Homo sapiens: one gene and its partner. The protein of the gene in region 1 interacts with the protein of each later gene in a pairwise test. Each region holds a gene or a part of one and is shown in the gene's direction. Other genes may lie near its edges.

What was found. The genes of interacting proteins can lie anywhere in the genome.
Region 2: the proteins of CCDC13 (region 1) and MYF5 interact in binary tests that used the Homo sapiens proteins (3 or more experiments, as listed by UniProt).

What each region holds. Positions count from the first base shown.
Region 1 is NC_000003.12:42,710,000-42,714,789, reverse strand, and holds part of CCDC13 (coiled-coil domain-containing protein 13), read left to right. Parts: intron 1-1,473; coding exon 1,474-1,628; intron 1,629-4,790. UniProt on the Homo sapiens protein: Required for primary cilia formation and promotes the localization of the ciliopathy protein BBS4 to both centriolar satellites and cilia.
Region 2 is NC_000012.12:80,715,614-80,719,711, forward strand, and holds MYF5 (myogenic factor 5), read left to right. Parts: upstream 1-1,298; 5' UTR 1,299-1,450; coding exon 1,451-1,951; intron 1,952-2,744; coding exon 2,745-2,820; intron 2,821-3,247; coding exon 3,248-3,438; 3' UTR 3,439-4,058; downstream 4,059-4,098.

The sequences.
Region 1 (4,790 bases):
TGTTACTATACAGCTTTTTATTAGTAGTTGTATACTGTTCAAAATTGTTGTCATTCTGTTCCTTTTGACCCTTCACCAAGGTGGAAAGATCACTTCCTCCAACACTGTCAGTTTCAAGGCTGCCCCTCTAATTTTCAGGTGTGCATGTAACTCTTGGCTTGGGTTAGATCTCAGGGAGTTCTGGCTTTCTCACTAAATGAACCTTTAGTATCATAGAAGTCTGAAATGGCACACCTAGCCACAGGAAGGACCTAAGCTCAAGCTCCAGTGGGATTAAACAAGTGCTTCATGTGAAATAACATTTATGACAGGCATGTAGAAAACAAAACAATAAGCTTAAGATAATCACTAACTCCAAGAAAAGCGAACAATTAAATGAGAAAGGACATATGACACTGTGCGTCATGGCTCTAACTAATTGTCCTAACGTAGACAGGCTTTTGGTGTCTATGCCCTTTGCTCCCTGCTGTTATGCCTGTGAGTGCTTTATGTTACATGAAAAAGAGATTTTGCAGATATGATTATTGTTATGGACCCTAAAATGGAAAGATTATCCTGGATTATCTGGTGGGCTCAATGTAATCTTTTGAGCCCTTAAAAGCAGAGAAATATCTCCGTCTGGGATTATTCAGAGAGTTGCTGTGGAGGAAGTCAGAGAGGGTAGTGAGATTCAAAGTGTGTTAAGGGTATCTAGCTGGCTTTAAAGATGGAGGGGGCAAGGTGGCTCCTAGAAGGTGAAATTGACCAGCAGCCTGCAGGGAACAGGGACCTCAGTCCTTCAACTACCTGGAACTGGATTCTGTCAACACTCTGAATGGGCCTGAAAGTGGATTTTCCCCCGGAACCTCCAGATAAGAGCCCAGGTCAGCCAACCCCTTGATTTCGGCTTGTGAAACCAGAAGCAGAGAAACCCACTGAGCTTGCCAGGCCTCTGACTTACAGAACTGTGAGATAATAGATTTGTGTTGTTTTAAGCTGCTAAATTTATGGTAATTTGTTATAGCTGTGATAGAAAACTGATACCTAATATCAATTCATCCAAAAACGTATACAGGTGATTCTGTTTCGTAGGAGGAGAGTACTAAAATAAAACTAAATTCTTATTTTGCATGACAGGAAGTCAAAAGATTATATTTAAACCTTATATAAACCTAAAAATAGCAACATAAGCATCTGTAGAAATATGGCAGTAAATATTAAAAGAAACAGCTAGAAGTGTTATAAGTGATTGCTTTTAGAGAGCAGGAATTGGGAATGATGGGGCTGGGAGTGGGCTGATAATTTTTAAATTTTAACCTTGGAGAGAACCATATGGTGTTTAAATGCATGTTCCTGTGTTACTGCAATGAAAATGAAGAGGTCCCATCACTACCAATGTAAGATGTGCCCATCTCTCTAAGGGCCTGAGCAAGTGGGGTAGGGCCTGCCCCTGCCTGCCAGGGCATGTAGCATCCCCTCCTCTCTAATCACCAGGGTGGAGGAGAGCAACAGCAAGCTCCTGGAGTCAGAGAGGAAGCTGCAGGAGGAGCGACACCGCACCGTGGTGCTGGAGCAACATCTGGAGAAGATACGCCTGGAGCCAGGGAAGGCATCAGCCTCCCAGAGAGCAGCTCCCAGGACCAAAACAGGTAGGGGCCAGGGCAGTAGTCTCAGTGCAGGGGGTGGAGGCAGTGTTGCTGCTAACAGAGGAGCCAGGCAGCTGCACTGTTCAGCCCATCAGTGAGCATGTGGGAAGCAGAGCTTCCATCAGGGTGGAGCTCTGCCTGCCTCCACTGTGGGGTGTTCTTTTCCCCAGGCCTCTCAGTCAGAAGCAGGAGCCCCAGAGCTCCATTGCCTCGTGTGGCCCTGGCCTGGCCACCTGTAAGCCCTCAGCATGAGGTGGCAGTGCTGAATGCCCCCAGCCACCCTAGCCCTCAACCCTCTATCCTAAGCTGACTTCATTCAAAGTGGTCATGGGGCACAGCTGGTCTGCTGGGGAAGCCCAAGCAACAGTGGCTGAAGCAGGGGAGGAGTCCCTTTGTGCCTCCTGCAATGGTCAAGTTGATATAAGCAGGAAGTAGCCTCACCAGAGGTTTGGGGACCCAAGCTCCCTCTGTTTTGTGGCTCCACTGTTCTCAACATGCAGCTTCCATCTTCTGGTCTACAATGACTGCCTGAGCTTTCCCATCAGCAGCAGGAAGGGGAGAAGGGAAGGAGACAAACTTCTCCTTACCTTTTACGGTTGCATATGTCACTTCTGCTCTCATCCCATCAGCCAGACAGTTGGGCATAGCCAGGTGCAGAGGGAAGCTGGGAAATGCTATCCTTAACTGAAAAGTCTATCGCTCGAACACAGTGGTTCTCAAGGTGCAGTATTCAGATGAGCAGCATCAGCATCCTGTGGGGCTGGGGCGAGCTGGAGGATGCCAGAGCCAGAAGCCATTTCTGGGATGGCTGACTCCCAGGGAGGAAGGGTCTCCAATGTGGAGGGGCTGGGCCTGCCTCTGTCTGACCTCCCATCCCACCCATCCCAGCCCCCTCCAGGCTGGAATGCTGGAGGTGCTGCTGCCCCCACTGCACCCTCTTTCAACACCCCAGTAGCCCCCCAACCCCTCCCCAGCCAAGGATGGTCAGACCCTTGGTCTCAGTCCTCAGCCCAGATGAGGTCAGAACGTTTCAGAAGGGTGTGCCAGAAGTAGGGCATAAAGAGGGTGTTGGGGCCACTTGCTTTCTCTTCTCCCACCAGCAGGGCCAGGAGCTTCTGAGAATCCAGGCCGGGAAGGAAGGGTCTCTGGGGCTTAGCCTTGCTGACCCTCTTGGACTCTCAGGAATATGTTCCCTAGGAGTGTGGCTTCTCCAGGCTGGGGCTTACCTCCTGTAGGGCAGCAGGACTTCCAACCAGGGAGAGCTAAGCCACAGCAGGCAAGTCACTTTGTTCCCTGCTGGACAGTGAGGGCAGCTGCCTGAGGGAAAGTGTCCAGGTGGCCTCTGCTGCCTACTGGCTTTTAACATGGGCAAAATCCTGCCCCTCTGGTGAGCAGAGCACCACTTACCCGCCTCCCCCTGGCCCATCCGTAAAATGAGGAGGCTAGATTTATAATTCAGTCCCCCATGGCAGTCTCACTCCAGTAGGGGAGCTAGACATCTGAGCAGAGATGGAGGAACTGGGAGGGGATGTGGCCTGCCGATCCCTGAGGGAAAGACAAGTGTCGGTGCTTGGAAGCTTAGCTGGATGCTTGGAGGAACAGGGAGGAGGCAGGGAGGCTGGAGTGGTCCAATCACACAGGGCCTTGAGAGCCAAATAGAATTCACTGAGGCTGCCAAAGCTCTAGAGGCATAAACTATTATCCTTTTTTTCAGCTAAGGAAACCAGCTCAGAGAGGCTGATAGTTTGCCTGAGGCCTCTCAGCAGAGGGCGAAAGCCAGGTCTTCTGATACCAAGTAATTTACTGTGGGTCACACCACCTCTGAGGGCCTTTTCAGTCCCGAGGTTTTCTGATGCTGTGATTTTGCCCAAGTTCGCCACCACCAGTTGAGCTTTGTCTTTTTTTTTTTTTTTTTTTTGGAGACAGAGTCTCACTCTGTCCCTCAGGCTGGAATGCAGCGGTGCGATCTCAGCTCACTGCAACCTCCACCTCCCTGGTTCAAGCAATTCCCCTGCCTCAGCCTCCCAAGTAGCTAGGATTACAGGGGTTCGCCACCACACCCTGCTAATTTATGTATTTTTAGTAATGATGGTGTTTTACCATGTTGGCCGGGCTGGTCTTGAACTCCTGACCTCAAATTATCCACCCCCCTAGACCTCCCAAAGTGCTGGGATTATAGGCATGAGCCACCGCACCCGGCTGAGGCTCTTTTTGATTCCCTGTGTCACAGGGCTTAGAAAATTCCATCAGGCTGAACAAGCAGTTTCCCATCCAGGGCAGCTCTAGTTGGGGATGTGGAGGTGCTCAATGCGTGGAATAAGCCAAGGGCAGCTTAGCAGTGTCCCCTGGAGCCAGGAAAGGCCCTGAAGAACACTCAGTCCAGCCCCTGTAGAGGGCAGAGCCACTCTGCTGCCTCCCCAGCAATGAGACAGGTTTACACAAGACTAGTCTTGAGGTGCATGCCTCCATGCCTGGCTAATTTTTATGTATTTTTAGTAGAGACAGGGTTTCACCGTGTTGGCCAGACTGGTCTTGAACTCCTGACCTCAAGCAATCTGCCCCCACTTGGCCTCCCAAAGTTCTGGGACCACCCCACCGTGGGCCACTTTGTCTCCTTTTTGTGAACATTCTGTACCCTTCAACTCCAGGACCCTGGATCCCCTGCTTCCTAGTATGAAGCTGATGGCCTGGATGGGGACCACTGGTATGAGGGCATCAGGTACAGTGACAGTCTAGACTCGGGCTCAGCCTGCAGGCCAGACCTCAGGCTCAGCTGGTTTCTCTTTTTGAAAACAAATTACCAGGCTGGGCATGGTGGTTTACGCCTGTAATCCTGGCACTTTGGGAGGCCTAGCCAACATGATAAAACCCTGTCTCTGCAAAAAATACAATAATTAGCTGGGCATGGTGACAGGCACCTGTTGTCCCAGCTACTCGGGAGGCACAAGAATCGCTTGAACCCTGGAGGCGCAGATTGCTGTGAGCTGAGATCACGCTACTGCACTCCAGTCTGGGTGACAGAGCAAGACTCTGTCTCAAAAAAAAAAAAAAGAAAAAAAAAAGAAAACAAATTACCAGAAACTTGTAAAGTATAAAGATGGAGACAGGGTGGTGAGGAACCACCCTGGTACAAAGCGAGCAGAGTCAGGGCTGTAGCAGAGGCCA
Region 2 (4,098 bases), on another chromosome or scaffold:
TTGCTTTTCCTAAATATAAACAGCACCTCCCCAACCCAAATAACCTGAAAGTGGATTAAGGTTGGAGGAGGATTGGTAAAAGCTGATTAATAGATTCATTCCCACTTAAATGACAACCCTCCCCTCTTGCCTTCTATCCATCGAAGTTCTAAAGACCCTGCTGTGATTGCTTTTCTGGAAGGCTTTTGTCACTGAAGTGTGTGAAGTTACTCCTGGTTTGAGGAGTTGGAAATTTTACACGAGTCAAGGATTGCAGTGGCGGCAGCTGGGACGCATCTGTAACGGTGTTAGTTTGCCTGAAAGCAGAAAATTAGCAACCCCAAAGCCCAGCTTGGCTGTTTAGTCTGTAGAAATGACAGGGCGGAGCAGAAAGAGAGGGAGAAAGGAGACTCACCCCTGGAAAGGGAGTTTGCCGTCGAAAACTGGGCTTCTTCTGTTGGAAATCTTAGAGACACTTTCAGTGCAGGTCTTTGGCCTGCTCAGGATCTAGGGAAGGCCTGGCACAAAGGAGAAGGTGCTCAACAAATACGTACAGAAGGGGAAAATGAAGGAAGCAAGAACGGGAGGAATGTTCCTGGTCACCTGGCCCTCCTGTGCCCCACCTCCTTTTAGATGAGCAGACATACAGGGAGAACTCAGAGCAAGCCCAGTCATGGGAAAAGGAACCTCCCTCCCTACTCTCAATAAGGTAGAGCCTAGAATAAATGACAATCTGAGCAAAACTTTACTCATCTGAAGCTATACAAAATAGATTTGGAAAGGCAAACCCTGTATTCACTCCAAGATTGAAAATGCCACTTCAAGTTTTTAGTAACCGTTATTCAATCCAATTGCTGGAAAAAGTTTTCGAGATAATTGAAGTTCATGAAAAAGAGAAACAAACACCCCCAAATCAGGTGATTCCTCACGCCCAGGATTGGGAGGGCAGGTCGGCTCTTGGTGCCAGCTGAAAGGGATTTCTATTTATTACCACTATTTTAAAATGTGTGTCCAATTGCAAAAAGTTGGACTGCCTTGGTCACTTTTGTGTGAAACACTCCTTAAGTGATCCCTTGTTTTAGCCTATCTAGAGAGTGCAAATGAGCAGGTTGGGGACCCACTGCCGCCCCAGCAGAAATACAGTAAAACCATTAGCGTCAAAAGGGGCAGTACACAGCAGATTGTCTGTAGAGGAAAGGCGGAGGTTTGTCCAGACAGCCCCCGCGGGGGTTGCGGTGGGATATGCTAATAGTGCCTGGCCACTGGGGCCGGCCTCCCTCCCGAAAGAATATATAAAGAACCCCAACCCCAGCTTGTCTACCCAGGCCAACAGGCGTCTGCCCTTGTTAATTACCGGAGCGACAGACTAGGGAGCTCCGCCCGGGATTTGCCCATCGGCGGAGGCGCCAGGCTCCCGTTTCTCCCCATCCCTCTCGCTGCCGTCCAGGTGCACCGCCTGCCTCTCAGCAGGATGGACGTGATGGATGGCTGCCAGTTCTCACCTTCTGAGTACTTCTACGACGGCTCCTGCATACCGTCCCCCGAGGGTGAATTTGGGGACGAGTTTGTGCCGCGAGTGGCTGCCTTCGGAGCGCACAAAGCAGAGCTGCAGGGCTCAGATGAGGACGAGCACGTGCGAGCGCCTACCGGCCACCACCAGGCTGGTCACTGCCTCATGTGGGCCTGCAAAGCCTGCAAGAGGAAGTCCACCACCATGGATCGGCGGAAGGCAGCCACTATGCGCGAGCGGAGGCGCCTGAAGAAGGTCAACCAGGCTTTCGAAACCCTCAAGAGGTGTACCACGACCAACCCCAACCAGAGGCTGCCCAAGGTGGAGATCCTCAGGAATGCCATCCGCTACATCGAGAGCCTGCAGGAGTTGCTGAGAGAGCAGGTGGAGAACTACTATAGCCTGCCGGGACAGAGCTGCTCGGAGCCCACCAGCCCCACCTCCAACTGCTCTGATGGCATGGTAAGCAATAGATCTGGTACCTGCTAGGCTACCCTAATCTTTTCTAAAGTCCTTACACCTCATTTAACCTGGTGTGGTGGGGAGAGTGGGGTGGAGGCAGATGCTGAGTTGCTTTAAAAGAAGAGAGGGGTCCACATTTAGAAAGACTCCCCAAACCGCTGCTGAACAAGATTTTAGTTTAACTTTCTAGCAGGTTCTAGGTGTACACTGTAATCGAGTGTTGACATGGAAGATGGGTGGCTGTGAATGATCACTCAGATGTTTTCTCCATTCCTGAATTTATTTTCAAAATATGCCATCTGTGGATCATGCCCTACGCTAATATCTAAAGGCACCGTTTCTAACTTAATGAGGAAATGGAAAGAAATACCCACACGGCCCCAGTTCCTGCTCCAATGAGGCCTGGCTGAAAGATGTTGATGCATTCTTTTTAGAGGGCGTTTGCTCCAAGGCTGCCAGGTTTTAATGTGTTTTTGCCCTGGGAAAGTGTTCTTTCCCTGAATTAGTGTGGCTTTCTTCTACTCCAATCCATTTTGCATGGTTAACCCAATGCACATTGCTGCTGAATTCCACCCCCTCTTCCCTTTGCTGCTGCTCTCCTCTTCTTCAAGCACAGAGATTGACCTCAGTGCCCTGGGAATTTGGAGAGGGCTAGCCCTTCCTAAATCAAGGCAGTGAAGGTGATTGACAGTGTTCGGTTACAGAGCTGGTGGGCAAGCACAGCCTCACCTTTGGTCAGAACATCTTTTGCCAAGACCTGAAAACAAACTTTGTTGTGTGTCTTGTATTATAGCCCGAATGTAACAGTCCTGTCTGGTCCAGAAAGAGCAGTACTTTTGACAGCATCTACTGTCCTGATGTATCAAATGGTAAGAATTGATAACTTCACAGGAGTTTAAAGACCAGTTCAACCTAACAATTCAGCCTATAAGATTCTGTTCTTGCTGATAGTATTGGGGAAGGGAGAATGGAAGTGATGGTTCTTATAGGGAGGCTTTGGTAAAGCAAAATAAACACATCTTCTGCTCCAAATCCCCCTAGCAGACACGCACGCACACATGCATACACACATGCACACACAATGTTGCTTGAAATATTATCAGGGGGCTTCCCCACTCCCCACGTCTACCCCTCAGGAATTGCCAGATATTTGTTGCAAATTTCTATGTTAGGCTTTCTGTGACCACCTGACCTCTGGGTGTCAGAGGAGCTGACCTACAATTTAAGGAGCAACATAAGCAAATCTGTCTATCTTGGGCTAATTATTTTTTAATGCTTTTCTCCTTGTATCCTTAGTATATGCCACAGATAAAAACTCCTTATCCAGCTTGGATTGCTTATCCAACATAGTGGACCGGATCACCTCCTCAGAGCAACCTGGGTTGCCTCTCCAGGATCTGGCTTCTCTCTCTCCAGTTGCCAGCACCGATTCACAGCCTGCAACTCCAGGGGCTTCTAGTTCCAGGCTTATCTATCATGTGCTATGAACTAATTTTCTGGTCTATATGACTTCTTCCAGGAGGGCCTAATACACAGGAAGAAGAAGGCTTCAAAAAGTCCCAAACCAAGACAACATGTACATAAAGATTTCTTTTCAGTTGTAAATTTGTAAAGATTACCTTGCCACTTTATAAGAAAGTGTATTTAACTAAAAAGTCATCATTGCAAATAATACTTTCTTCTTCTTTATTATTCTTTGCTTAGATATTAATACATAGTTCCAGTAATACTATTTCTGATAGGGGGCCATTGATTGAGGGTAGCTTGTTGCAATGCTTAACTTATATATACATATATATATATTATAAATATTGCTCATCAAAATGTCTCTGGTGTTTAGAGCTTTATTTTTTTCTTTAAAACATTAAAACAGCTGAGAATCAGTTAAATGGAATTTTAAATATATTTAACTATTTCTTTTCTCTTTAATCCTTTAGTTATATTGTATTAAATAAAAATATAATACTGCCTAATGTATATATTTTGATCTTTTCTTGTAAGAAATGTATCTTTTAAATGTAAGCACAAAATAGTACTTTGTGGATCATTTCAAGATATAAGAAATTTTGGAAATTCCACCATAAATAAAATTTTTTACTACAAGAAATATTTTGGCTCATGATCTTTTAAAATAACACCCCAATGGA